Homo sapiens: one gene and its partner. The protein of the gene in region 1 purifies or fractionates together with the protein of each later gene. This does not show direct contact. Each region holds a gene or a part of one and is shown in the gene's direction. Other genes may lie near its edges.

What was found. Proteins that work in one complex are often made in the same cells at the same time.
Region 2: the proteins of TULP4 (region 1) and CUL5 purify together in Homo sapiens (affinity purification with mass spectrometry; 5 studies listed by BioGRID and IntAct, with this or other methods). This does not show direct contact.

What each region holds. Positions count from the first base shown.
Region 1 is NC_000006.12:158,497,413-158,504,845, forward strand, and holds part of TULP4 (tubby-related protein 4), read left to right. Parts: intron 1-1,256; coding exon 1,257-1,400; intron 1,401-4,265; coding exon 4,266-6,766; intron 6,767-7,433. UniProt on the Homo sapiens protein: May be a substrate-recognition component of a SCF-like ECS (Elongin-Cullin-SOCS-box protein) E3 ubiquitin ligase complex which mediates the ubiquitination and subsequent proteasomal degradation of target proteins.
Region 2 is NC_000011.10:108,088,868-108,096,201, forward strand, and holds part of CUL5 (cullin-5), read left to right. Parts: intron 1-624; coding exon 625-756; intron 757-5,523; coding exon 5,524-5,647; intron 5,648-5,944; coding exon 5,945-6,120; intron 6,121-6,662; coding exon 6,663-6,824; intron 6,825-7,334. UniProt on the Homo sapiens protein: Core component of multiple cullin-5-RING E3 ubiquitin-protein ligase complexes (ECS complexes, also named CRL5 complexes), which mediate the ubiquitination and subsequent proteasomal degradation of target proteins.

The sequences.
Region 1 (7,433 bases):
TTTGAATTTTTGGCATTTTAACAATACACAGTAGATTCTACAAAATTCAAAGCATTCAGAGGGGTCTATAGTAAAAATCTCTGTCATTCTCACCATCAGCCACCTACTTTTCTTTCCTGGAGGTAACTGATGGTATTTTTCTAATCCCTCCTAGAATTTTTTTAAAAATTGCTTTGTCAATGTGAACAACAAAGAATAACACTTTAATACATTCATTCTTAAGTCATATGGAACCACACAGTATTTTTAAACCAAAATTCATATTATCTTTCCTTTGTGGACAAGAGAGAGAAACACATGCCTAGGGCCTTTCCTGCTATTGGGCAGGAGAAGTTACCTTAACCCATACCAGTCCATGGGCCAGCCCCGCAAAGATGCTTCGACAAAGGAGGCCTGCTGTGCCGCAGTCATGCTGCAGGTCAGCCGCTAAGTGTTAAGGTGACCGCCATGGAGCTAGAATAAAGAAGCTTTGTGCTACCTGTCTCACAGGAGAGACTATTGAACACAAAAGCAAGTTCACAGGGCAGTTTCACCCCGACTTTAACTACTGTGAAACTTAAATTCAGATTCATTATATTTAAACTTATTTTGTCTCCTCTAAATATTTTAGTTGCAATCTAGGCCTTCTCCTACATGTCCCTGTTAATCAAATTAAATCTTGAGGTTTTAAAAAAACAACTGTGTGGAAATTCCCTATAAATCTCTATCCTGATGGTTAGATTAAAATTGAAAGCCAGTAAACCAAGGTTCCAGCCGAAATGAAGGCTATGTTTTATTCCTACATGAAACCATGCCACCCCCATCTCAACATTGCTTTCACACAGTTTCTTGGTTGCCCAAGCTTCCCTTGTTTGGCAGTCTGGTTGTCACAACTATTTCCATTCAATCATCCTTCTGACTGCAAATGAGGTTTTTAAAAAATATGTTTTTATACCCTAGCTTATTCCAAAAGAAATGATTTGTGTCTAAAATGTTTTTAACATTTGAAATTTGTAGTTCTGTAGACAAACCATTGGCAAGGAGGCCAAGCTAGACCGGGAATCTGCTGTTACTGAATCCAGAACTGTGGCTAGTATGGTCGCATTGAGTACTAGGGAGAAATGAAGAGCTCCTCTCAGCCTCTGGGCCCTGCCTACACAGATCTGTCTTCTGATGGCAGGGAAACTGCAGTGCGCTCTTCTTCCTGTGACTCTCTTGACACTTTGGCTCTGCTCTGGTGTGTCTCTGTTAACTGTGCCCTTCTTTTTCCCCACCAGTAATCTATAAAACCAGCCTCCTGCATCTCCAGCCGCGGCAGATGACCATTTATCTCCCAGAAGTTCGGAAAATTTCCATGGACTATATTAATTTACCTGTCTTCAACCCAAATGTTTTCAGTGAAGATGAAGATGATTTACCAGGTGTGTTCACATACATCAACGTGTTTGTCACGGTCCCTCTGTCAGTAGATCATGCAAGGGGGACAGAGCGGCAAGTTGTTGAGGATTTCAGTCTGCTACCTGGGTTTGGAAAAGGTATCCCTGCCTCAGTAAGGTTGGTAGATGTGATGTTGTGTCCCAGGGGAAAAGTCACAGGTTGGCACCAGTGTTGGCAGGAGGGGAGCTGCTGGAGCACAGATGGTTCCAGTAGCAGCGGCGCCTTGTGTTTTCGGAGCACAGTTCTAACATCTGGCTTTATCCTCACAGCTATCCTCTTAGTCTTGTGTCTGGATTCAGATAAGTTTGCAGGACTGATTGGGACTAAATAAAATCAGAACTGAGACTCAATCTCATTGATCTAGGCCAGCTTTCATCCTTTCAGTCCCTGCTGAGATAGTGTCTCACTCCAGCATTCCCGTGGTGCGCACAGAGCCCAGTTTCTCAAATCTGCCGTGTCCAGGACGCAAAAGCCTTTACCTGGAACTACCTCTCTTCCACCGCAACCGCATGTCTCAGTGCACAGGGGCCTGGTCTGAGTTCAAGATAAAATCTGGTAAACAGTTTTTAAATTCCAGTTTTCAAATGGTAAATATCAATATCCATAGCATCTTAAGTTAATGTGTTTCCCAGTGGGGGGATTCTTAAAGGATCCTATTTTGATTAATAGATTACAATGACTTCCAATTAGTCTGGCCAGTTAGTTGTGTGTAACTATTTCACTAGAGGGTACTTGAAAATAACTTGCTTTTCTAAGTAAAAGGCCACCTGAGATTTTATAGATACACAGACTCCTCTACTTCCAACTAAGTGGGCTCTGGAAGTCTCTTGTTTCTGAGCTAGAGGAACCCAGACATGGACCGTGACTTCTCCAGTATCTGGATGTCTGTGACCAGAGGGACTGGTTCTTGCAGTGGACATAGAGGGCCACCCATTTCAGCTTGGGCCCTCCTCCTCAGCTTGGCTCTGAACTTGAGAGAGTTGTTTACCTTCTCTCAGCCCAGTCTTTTTAACTGAAAAAAGAAAAAAAAATGATTTATACTGCACTTTCCAACAATAGCCATCTTGCTTCTCTGTTGGTGACCTCTCCTGCATGGGTGAGCAAATCTCCTAGGCTTATGTGGTCCTAATAGGCCAAGCTTACAGCCACATAAATACCTGTAGTTTGGTGAAGCCTCCCATACCTGAGCTTTCTAGTGCATCCCCTTCTACTTCAGAATCTTGGAATTAGAAGTATCTTTTAAACTTTCCCCTTAACGCTTTCCCTGTTCTCCCAAAATGCGAGGAATACAGCCCTCTCCAAGGTTCAGCTGTTGCTGCAGTTGTCGTTATTGTCTGTGGTTCTCAATGAGAGGAGGGAACATATTGTCTCAGGGATTACATTTAATGATGGTGACTCAGTGAAGAGGCTCTTCTTCCTTAAAGGGGAAGATGCCTGCCATCAGTGTTTCATACAGACGAGAGAGCTTCTCCAAGAGGGATCTGAACAGGAATCATAGGAAACCTGAGACAGACCCAAATTTGTGTGGCCAGGGGAGAGTTATGTCTTACTAGGACACCCCAAGGAAGGGCCAGCTTAGCTTTTGATAAACTAGCTGGCTTGATTCTGTAGTTCTTTTGATGAGAAGTCAGCCAGTGTCACATTTCCTAATCATGGACTAGCTGCCACACGGTACTTACACCATGCCTCAGATTTCTGGATCAGTGGCAGTTTTCTCTAAGGGAAAAGCCACAGGGTAGCACAGTGGGCCTAGAGGAGCCAACTGCAGAGTGCTCAGTGGGCACTTTAAACAGGGTGGTGCAGACAGTGGCTCTGAGCACCTGTCTGTAGATCGCTGTTCAAATGCACGCACGCTCTGTTAAACTCTCACTGTGTACAAATAGGATATATTTATAGGGTTTAATTCAGCATGGCTCTACCTTACATACTGTTTGAAATGCTAAAAAGCAGATAAAGGCCAGGCAGGGTGGCTCACACCTGTAATCCCAGCCCTTTGGGAGGCGAGGTGGGTGGATCACCTGAGGTCAGGAGTTGGGGACCAGCCTGGCCAACATGGCAAAACCCCATATCTACTAAAAATACATAGCTGGGTGTGGTGGCGCTCACCTGCAGTCCCAGCTACTGGGGAGGCTGAGGCAGGAGAATCACTTGAACGCAGGAGAATCACTTGAACCCAGGAGGTGGAGGTTGCAGTGAGCTGAACTCCTGCTACTGCACGCCTGGGCAACAGAGCAAGACTCTGTCTTAAAAAAAAAAAAATTAGGAAATGATCCTTCATATGATACTCAGATTCACTAGAAGATTCTTTTCATTGTTTTTTCTACCACATTTTACATGGTTCTATTTACAGAAACCTAATGTGCATACATTTCTTATACACATCTGTTGCATGACACTTTCCACACTATCCATCCCATAATCATGAATAGACCTATTCAGAGGCCTAGGCACTGCAAGTCCTCAATGGAGGTTTTTCCTGTACCATTGCCCTCTTCTTGCATAAAAGGGTGGGTATTTTATGAATATCACCAGTAAAAAGCTTCTTCAGACATTTAATTATCTGTGATGGTGCCATTGAGGCACTGGTGCCAAGTTTAGAAGGTTCAAAAGTGAGTTAGTCGAAAAGTTCTGACAGTACCCTTAGCTAACAGACAGCAGCAGGCTGCCCTCAAGAACCCATCTCCCTTGTGCGAGCAGGCCAGCTTTCCCCAAGCAGACACGTCTCTGTCTCTGGCAATTTGCATTTTGTTTACAGAAGGAGACTGGATGAGTCCAGACGTATTGCTTATCCTGATCTGGTTTAATGGCAGTGTTTTTGTAAGCAGTTCCTTTTTCTAATTTTCTTCCAGTGACAGGAGCATCTGGTGTCCCTGAGAACAGCCCACCTTGTACCGTGAACATCCCTATTGCACCGATCCACAGCTCGGCTCAGGCTATGTCCCCCACGCAGAGCATAGGGCTGGTGCAGTCCCTACTGGCCAATCAGAATGTGCAGCTAGATGTCCTGACCAACCAGACGACAGCTGTAGGGACAGCAGAACATGCAGGTGACAGTGCCACCCAGTACCCAGTCTCCAACCGGTACTCCAATCCTGGACAGGTGATTTTCGGAAGCGTGGAAATGGGCCGCATCATTCAGAACCCCCCTCCACTGTCCCTGCCTCCCCCGCCGCAGGGGCCCATGCAGCTGTCCACGGTGGGCCATGGAGACCGAGACCACGAACACCTGCAGAAGTCAGCCAAGGCCCTGCGGCCAACACCGCAGCTGGCAGCTGAGGGGGACGCAGTGGTCTTTAGTGCCCCCCAGGAGGTCCAGGTGACGAAGATAAACCCTCCACCCCCGTACCCAGGAACCATCCCCGCTGCCCCCACCACAGCAGCACCCCCGCCCCCTCTGCCGCCCCCACAGCCCCCAGTGGATGTGTGCTTGAAGAAGGGCGACTTCTCCCTCTACCCCACGTCAGTGCACTACCAGACCCCCCTGGGCTATGAGAGGATCACCACCTTCGACAGCAGTGGCAACGTGGAGGAGGTGTGCCGGCCCCGCACCCGGATGCTGTGCTCCCAGAACACGTACACCCTCCCCGGCCCGGGTAGCTCTGCCACCTTGAGGCTCACGGCCACTGAGAAGAAGGTCCCTCAGCCCTGCAGCAGTGCCACCCTGAACCGCCTGACCGTCCCTCGCTACTCCATCCCCACCGGGGACCCACCCCCGTATCCTGAAATTGCCAGCCAGCTGGCCCAGGGGCGGGGGGCTGCCCAGAGGTCCGACAATAGCCTCATCCACGCTACCCTGCGGAGGAACAACCGTGAGGCTACGCTCAAGATGGCCCAGCTGGCCGACAGCCCGCGGGCCCCCCTGCAGCCCCTGGCCAAGTCCAAGGGCGGGCCCGGGGGGGTGGTGACACAGCTCCCAGCGCGGCCCCCACCTGCCCTGTACACCTGCAGTCAGTGCAGTGGCACAGGGCCCAGCTCACAGCCCGGAGCCTCCCTGGCCCATACCGCCAGCGCCTCCCCGTTGGCCTCCCAGTCCTCCTACAGCCTCCTGAGCCCACCCGACAGCGCCCGCGACCGCACCGACTACGTCAACTCGGCCTTCACGGAGGACGAGGCCCTGTCCCAGCACTGTCAGCTTGAGAAGCCCTTGAGGCACCCTCCCCTGCCTGAAGCTGCTGTCACCCTGAAACGGCCACCCCCTTACCAGTGGGACCCCATGCTGGGTGAGGATGTTTGGGTTCCTCAAGAAAGGACAGCACAGACTTCAGGGCCCAACCCCTTAAAACTGTCCTCTCTGATGCTGAGTCAGGGCCAGCACCTGGACGTGTCCCGACTGCCCTTCATCTCCCCCAAGTCTCCTGCCAGCCCCACTGCCACTTTCCAAACAGGCTATGGGATGGGAGTGCCATATCCAGGAAGCTATAACAACCCCCCTTTGCCTGGAGTGCAGGCTCCCTGCTCTCCCAAAGATGCCCTGTCCCCAACGCAGTTTGCACAACAGGAGCCTGCTGTGGTCCTTCAGCCGCTGTACCCACCCAGCCTCTCCTATTGCACCCTGCCCCCCATGTACCCAGGAAGCAGCACGTGCTCTAGTTTACAGCTGCCACCTGTCGCCTTGCATCCATGGAGTTCCTACAGCGCCTGCCCGCCCATGCAGAACCCCCAGGGCACTCTCCCCCCAAAGCCACACTTGGTGGTGGAGAAGCCCCTTGTGTCCCCACCACCTGCCGACCTCCAAAGCCACTTGGGCACAGAGGTGATGGTAGAGACTGCAGACAACTTCCAGGAAGTCCTCTCCCTGACCGAAAGCCCAGTCCCCCAGCGGACAGAAAAATTTGGAAAGAAGAACCGGAAGCGCCTGGACAGCCGAGCAGAAGAAGGCAGCGTTCAGGCCATCACTGAGGGCAAAGTGAAGAAGGAGGCTAGGACTTTGAGTGACTTTAATTCCCTAATCTCCAGCCCACACCTGGGGAGAGAGAAGAAGAAAGTGAAGAGTCAGAAAGACCAACTGAAGTCAAAGAAGTTGAATAAGACAAACGAGTTCCAGGACAGCTCCGAGAGCGAGCCTGAGCTGTTCATCAGCGGGGATGAGCTCATGAACCAGAGCCAGGGCAGCAGAAAGGGCTGGAAAAGCAAGCGCTCCCCACGGGCCGCCGGCGAGCTGGAGGAGGCCAAGTGCCGGCGGGCCAGTGAGAAGGAGGACGGGCGGCTGGGCAGCCAAGGCTTCGTGTACGTGATGGCCAACAAGCAGCCGCTGTGGAACGAGGCCACCCAGGTCTACCAGCTGGACTTCGGGGGGCGGGTGACCCAGGAGTCCGCCAAGAACTTCCAGATTGAGTTAGAGGGGCGGCAGGTAAGACCTCAGACCAGGTGGCGCTGCGAGCCCAGGAGGCGAGGGTTTCAGTGCTTCGGCCTTCAAGGAGCATTTTTCAAAAGGCCAAATGGGAAATGTGGAAAACAACGAACACCTCTTAGGTGGAGCTCATGGGGTTATGGTTTTTAGTGTGCCCACTGCTGTCTTGTATTTTTTTTTTTCTTTTTGAGACCGTCTCGCTCTGTGGCCCAGGCTGGAGTGCAGTGGCGCAGTCTTGGCTTCCTGCAAGCTACGCCTCCTGGGTTCACGCCATTCTCCCGCCTCAGCCTCCCGAGTAGCTGGGACTACACGTGCCCGCCACCATGCCCGGCTAATTTTTTTTTTTTTTTTGTATTTTTAGTAGAGATGGGGTTTCACCGTGTTAGCCAGGATGATCTCGATCTCCTGACCTCGTGATCTGCCCGCCTTGGCCTCTCAAAGTGCAGGGATTACAGGCGTGAGCTACCACGCCCAGCCCTAATTTTTTTTTTTTTAGAAATGGGAGTCTCACTGTGTTGTCTAGATTGGTCTCAAACTCCTGGGTTCCAAGCAATCCTCCTGCCTCAGCCTCTCAAGATGTTGGGATTACAGGCGTGAGCCAACGCACCTGGCCTGCAGTCATATTTGTAAAGAATACGTTTCTACTTCTGTTCATTGACTTTTCTGT
Region 2 (7,334 bases), on another chromosome or scaffold:
TAATTCCTCTCCTTTCTTGGTTATTTTTAGGAATTAAGTTCTAGCTACTAATACAGGACATATCATTCCAACAAATTTGGAATGATAGTTGACAGATTGGGAGTTTTTCACTCCTTCCTTTTTGTGAGAGTCCAAGATAGATAGCAAGGGATGAATGAGAGTAGATTAAGTAGTTGTTTTCATCTTTGTCACCCAGTTGTTAGTGTAATGATGTAAGCCCAGGAATACAAACAAGAAAAAAAATAAGATATTGGGCAAGTGTAGACAGAAAGGCCGAGAGAGATGACTAGTGTCAGAAAAAAAAGTGAAAAAGATAAGTAGAAGAGACACTTTGCAGGGGGACATTGATTTTTTTCATGTAAAGTATATCGTTGCATTTTATACAAAATCTAAAAAACTGATATTTAGACCGACTAACAATTTGGTTATAGTCTCAGTTTTGCTAACCTTTAAAGTAGTGTATCAGGACTGGGTATTTCTCAGAGATGGATAATTCAGTAGGCCTCTATCTGTATATGCTCATAAAAGTTTCTGACTTGTGACAATTGGTGGATATAGAAAGGTCTAAATTCGAGAGATGGTAAGAGTATATAAGAACTGAAAGTAACTTTATTTTTCATACAGCTCTTGGTACTTAAGTATGTACAGAACAAAGATGTTTTTATGAGGTATCATAAAGCTCATTTGACACGACGTCTTATATTAGACATCTCTGCCGATAGTGAAATTGAAGAAAACATGGTAGAGTGGCTAAGAGTAAGTAAATTTTTTTAAATATTTGGTTTTCTAATACATTACATCATTTATATGTGTGCTTAAGTAATACATTTTGGAGATATTGTTAATGTCAAAGAAGTAGGAAACATTTTATAAGAATATAGCGTCAGTTAGGCCGGGCGCACTGGCTCATACCTGTAATCCCAGCACTTTGGGAGGCCGAGGCAGGTGGATCACCTGAAGTCAGGAGTTCAAGACTAGCCTGACCAACATGGCAAAACCGCGTCTCTACTAAAAATACAAAAATTAGCTGGATGTGCTGGTGCACTCCGGTAATTCCAGCTGCTTGGGAGGCTGAGGCAAGAGAATCACTTGAACCCAGGAGGTGGAGGTTGCAGTGAGCCAAGATCGTGCCATTGCACTCCAGCCTGGGTAACAGAGTGGGACTCCATTTCAAAAAAAAAAGAATATACCATCAATTATATAAAATAAAGTGATATCTAATAAATGTTCTTAATACTTTCAGTAAAGTATCTTTGTTCTTGAGTTGTTTCTACTGTTTCACTCCCATTTGTACCTCAACTCTCATTTAAACTGACCTTATTAATAAATAGACTACAGGGGCTGGGCACGGTGGCTCACACCTATAATCCCAGCACTTTGGGAGGCCAAGGCAGGTGGATCACAAGGTCAGGAGATCGAGACCATCCTGGCTAACACAGTGAAACCCAGTCTCTATTAAAAATACAAAAAAATTAACGAGGCGTGGTGGTGGGGGGCCTGTAGTCCCAGCTACTTGGGAGGCTGAGGCAGGAGAATGGCATGAACCCTGGGGGGCGGAGCTTGCAGTGAGCTGAAATCGAGCCACTGAACTCCAGCCTGGGTGACAGAGCAAGACTCCATCTCAAGAAAAATAAAATAAATAAATAGACTGCAGGACAAATTATTATATCTTTAAGGTATTTTCAGTACTAAATGCTTAACTTTAGAGATGTTTATAAATGATAACAATAAATACTTCTGTATAGCAAAAAGAACCTTTAAATGATGGCCTATTTAGGGTAATCAATGCTGATTATAACTAAATTCCCATATAAAGTATTTTGAGTTCTTTTTTTGTTTTAATTATTAAAGTAAATATCTTTAATTTCTGTGTATGTATATAACTCTCTCCACATATATATGGAGAGAGAGAGAGTGCGAGCAAGCACACACGAGAGAGACCTACAGATATTTTAACTTATAGCTAGCCCTTCGCATGGAACTTTAGGATAGTAAAAATTACTGTGCTAACTGAAACTGCTTAGTAGGAAAAAGAATGATTATTCTGTGACTTTTTAAAACTATTGTCAAAAGACTCAAAACTCTTACTGTCACTTATAAGTATATAGGAAAAAGGGGAAAATAGCAAAACTAATACATATTTACTACGAGAAACCTTTAGAATTAAATTTTCTTTCTTTCTTTCTTTTTTTCTTTTTTTTGGAGATGTAGTCTTGCTGTGTTACCCAGGCTGGATTGCAGTGGTGCAATCTTGACTCACTGAAACCTCTGTCTCCCAGATTCAAGCAATTCTCCTGTCTCAGCCTCCTAAGTAGCTGGGACTACAGGTTTGTGCCATGACGCCTGGCTAATTTTTGTATTTTTAGTAGAGACACGGTTTTGCATGTTGGCCAGGCTGGTCTTGAAATCCTGGTCTTAAGTGATCCGCCTGCCTCGGCCTCCCAAAGTACTGAGATTACAGGCGTGAGCCACCACACCCGGCCTATGTTATTTCTTTGTTAAAAAAAAAATATCAAGACCCAACAGTAAAATGACAAACAAGGCTAGGCATGGTGGCTCACACCTGTAATCCCAGCACTTTGGGAGGCTGAGGAGGGCAGATGGCTTGTGCTCAGAGTTTGAGATGAGCCTGGGCAACGTGGTGAAACCCCATCTCTACAAAAATTTAAAAAATTAGCTGGGTGTGATGGCATGCACCTTAGTCCCAGCTGCTTGGGAGGCTGAGGTGGGAGGATCGCCTGAGCCTGTGAGGTGGAGGTTGCATTGAACAGAGATCTTACCACTGTACTCCTGCCTGAGCAACAGAGTCAGATCCTGTCTCTCTCACTCACACACACACACACACACACACACACACACACACACGACAAATAATTAAAAGCAGGCAAAGGATTCGAATTGACATCTCTTCACAGAAGATAGACAGATGGCCAATAAGTGCATGCAAAGATACTCAACATCATTAGTCATTAGTGAAATGCAAGTGAAATGCTCAACATGTTGGCTCCTGCTTATCCCAAATATTTTGAAAGGCTGAGGTGGGAGGATTGCATGAAGCCAGGAGTTAGAAACTACCCTGGGCAAAATAACAATACTCCATGTCTACAAAAAATACAGAAATCAGCTAGGCATGGTGATGTGTGCCTGTGGTTCTAGCTACTCAGGAGGCTGAGATGGGATGATTGCTTGAGCCCAGAAGTTCAAAGTTGTAATGAGCTGAGATTGTGCCACTGCACTGCAGCCTGGGCAACAGAGTGAGACCCTTTCTCAAAAACAAAAAAAACACAAAGAGATACTACTTTATTCCCACTAGGGTAGCTAAAATAAAGACAGATGATAACAAATGCTAGTAAGGAAGAGGAGAAATTGGAACCTTCGTAAGTTGCTAGTGGAGACATAAGATGGTGCAGACACTTTGGAAAACTGTTGGGCAGTTCCTTAAAATGTTGAACGTAGAGCTGACCCAGCAATTTCACTCTTAGGTAATTCATTTGAAGAGAAATGAAAACATGTTTCATGTAAAAACTTGTAAACAAATGTTCATGGCAAGATTACTAATAATAGTCAAAAAGTGGAAACAACCCAAAATGTCAGTGAGCTAATGAATAAAATGTGATTTATCCATACAATGGAATATTTTTTGTGATAAAAAGGAATAAACTAATAATACATGCTGCAATATTAGGTGAACTTTGAAAACATAATGCTGAGTGAAAGAAGCCAATCCCAAAGACCATATCGTATGATTCCACTAATGTGAAGTGTCCAGAATAGGCAAATCCACAAATTCCAGGAGTTGGGGCCAGGAGGGGAAATGACGAGTGACTGTAAATAGTATGGGGTTTCTTTTTGGGGTGATGAAAATGTTCTAAAATTAGATAGTGGTGATGGTTGCACAGTTCTGTAGATATACTAAACTTCATTACACTGTATATTTTATTTTTATTTTTATTTTTTATATTTTTTTGAGACAGAGTCTCACTTTGTTGCCCAGGCTGGAGTGCAGTGGTGCGATCTTGGCTCACTGCAACTTCTGCCACCCAGGTTCAAGCGATTTTCCTGCCTCAGCCTCCTGAGTAGCTGGGATTACAGGCGCATGCCACCATGCCCAGCTAATTTTTGTATTTTTAGCAGAGATGGGTTTCACCATGTTAGCCAGGCTGGTCTTGAACTCCTGACCTCAGGTGATCCACCCGCCTCAGCCTCCCAAAGTGCTGGGATTACAGGCATGAGCCCAGCCAAATTGTATACTTTAAAATAGTAGATTTTATGGTAGATAAATTATCTGACACAGTAAAGCTGTTAATAAAGAGTAGTTTGAATAGCTTTTGCCTTCTTGTGTAACTTGACAGAGTAAGCATCTTTTCTTTGCCTTGGAGAGTTGTCACACCCCCTGTAATTTGGATGATCTTCTAGCATTTTATCTTTTGGGCTGTCAGTGTCATGAAATACTGAGAATTCCTTTATAGCATTTTTGCCAGGATCACTTCTTCTAGGGTATCTTATCTTTTTTGTCACTCACCACTTTTATCTTTTATGTTGGTAATTTGCTTTCACTAAGTTCCTCAACACTGGCATTGTCAGCCTTACTACCACAGTCAGCTTTCTTCTATAACTCCATTTATGTTCTATTTTATTTTCATTTCCAGCATTATCACTTTTCATTTCCTGTTTACTTTTATATCTTTGCCAATTATCTTGTTTGATTATTCTTTTTTGTAAGTAGTCATGTGGGTTTATTACTGGAAGACAAGGATGCAATGAAACTGCATACTTTGCTGTCTGCAGTTTAACTGAATAAACAAATGACTAATAGGTTGTGTTTACATTTTTTAAAAATTTATTTATTTAATTTTTTCAAGCAACAGGATCTTCTGTTGCCCAGGCTGGAGCGCAGTGACACAATCAGAGCTTAAACTCCTGGGCTCAAGCAATCCACCCACCTCAGCCTTCCGAGTAGCTGGGACTATCTCGGCAGTATGCCGCCATATCCTGCTAACTTTTAAAATTTTTTTGTAGTGATGGGGGTGTCACTGTGTTGCCCAGGCTGGTCTTAAAATCCTGGCTTCAAGTGATCCTCCTGCTTCAGCCTCCCAAAGTGCTAGGATTACACACCATGCCAACTAATAGATTTTGAAAGAAGTATTGTGGTTAGTCATTGTTACTTTTGTCATGATTTGTGGATCAAAGAGCTAGAAATAAAGTTTTTACTTCATGCAGTTAAATTTATTATATAGTGTCAACTGAAAGTTGAGCTTTGTTCTTGGGGAATTGGTATTATTTAACTGTACTGTGGTAACTGAAATTCATACATACTAAAAATGCGCAAAGCAGGGACCCCTTGTAATACCGTATTTTGTTTCTAAGTAGCAAATTTCATAGGTATTAGACAATAAAATTCTAATAAATGAGAAAAATTTTGTATTAAAACATTTAAGACTTAGTTTTTCTATTAAAATTTTTCCCAGTAATATATCAGATTATGTATTTATTACCTCTTCCTTCTTTGGTTTATATTTATAGGAAGTTGGTATGCCAGCGGATTATGTAAACAAGCTTGCTAGAATGTTTCAGGACATAAAAGTATCTGAAGATTTGAACCAAGCTTTTAAGGAAATGCACAAAAATAATAAATTGGCATTACCAGGTATTATTTTATAATTACATGTATATATTTTTTAAACTTAGAAGAATATCTTTGTTTTCCAGTAAATTAAAAATAAACCTCAGCAGTAATAGATCGAAAGATGTTATGAAGTCCATTTCCGTGGAGACAGCTATCAAAGCAGTGTGTTAGATTTACAGATCTTTATTTCAAAACAAAAGGACACTTTTAACAAAATCTTTATAGTCTTATTGATTTTTCACCCAAAGTTACCCTGTATTTATTTTGAATTTTATCCATTGTTAATTTACTTTATATTCCTGATATTCTTCTCTATAGCTGATTCAGTTAATATAAAAATTCTGAATGCTGGCGCCTGGTCAAGAAGTTCTGAGAAAGTCTTTGTCTCACTTCCTACTGAACTGGAGGACTTGATACCGGAAGTAGAAGAATTCTACAAAAAAAATCATAGTGGTAGAAAATTACATTGGCATCATCTCATGTCAAATGGAATTGTAAGTAGATAGTGTGTTAGTTATTTCAGCTTTCAGTTTGGATGAAAGTAGCAGGACTCCGCAGAATTGCTTAAACAAAATAGATTTTTGCCTCTCTCACATGTAAAAGTTTGAGCAGAAATAGTGAATTTTTTTCATGAAGTTGATAGGGACATAGGCTTCTGGTTATACCATCATACTTAAGATACTGCCGTTGTCTACAGAATTCAACATGATCCCAACTATCTCAGTATTCCTGGCAACAGAAAGCAAAAGGTGAGGGTAGCTTACACCTTTCATTAGGGACAACTTCTAGAAGTTTCCTCTGTCATTTTCCATTTGCATCCGCCAGTACTCAGTCACTTGGCCACATTTTGTTACATGGAAAGCTGGGAGATGAGCGTGTATTCTGGGCAGTCATTAACGTCTTCTAAAATGTTTATTACTGTGAAAGAGTGGATACTGGAAGACAGCAACCTTTTTCATATATAAATTCATGTCATAGATATTAAGAGAGAATCATCATGAGATTCTTTATTAAAAATCTGTTTTATCTATTATAGATAACATTTAAGAATGAAGTTGGTCAATATGATTTGGAGGTAACCACGTTTCAGCTCGCTGTATTGTTTGCATGGAACCAAAGACCCAGAGAGAAAATCAGCTTTGAAAATCTTAAGCTTGCAACTGAACTCCCTGATGCTGAACTTAGGAGGACTTTATGGGTTGGTTTATGTTTTTTTGTTTTTAAGACTGTATCCTCTCATGTAGCAGGAAATATATGATTGGCTTGTAATATATTAGTAAATTCATAACAGTTTCAGAATGTCTTATCAAGAAAAATAGAGGCCGGGCACAGTGGATCACGCCTGTAATCCCAGCACTTTGGAAGGCCGAGGTGGGCAGATCACTTGAGGTCAGGAGTTCGAGACCAGCCTAGCCAACATAGTGAAACCCCATCTCTACTAAAAATACAAAAATTAGCTGGGCGTGGTGGTGGGCGCCTGTAATCCCAGCTACTTGGGAGGCTGAGGCAGGAGAATCGCTTGAATTCAGGAGGTAGAGGTTGCAGTGAGCCAAGATTGCGCCACTACACTCCAGCCCAGGCAACAGAGTGAGAACTCCGTCTGAAAAAAAAAAAAAATTATGCACACACACACACACACGAGATATTTATGGAAAAAATAAATTGCAAATAGGCAAGTTACCAAGGCAGAGAAAAGTGCTTCAAAAAA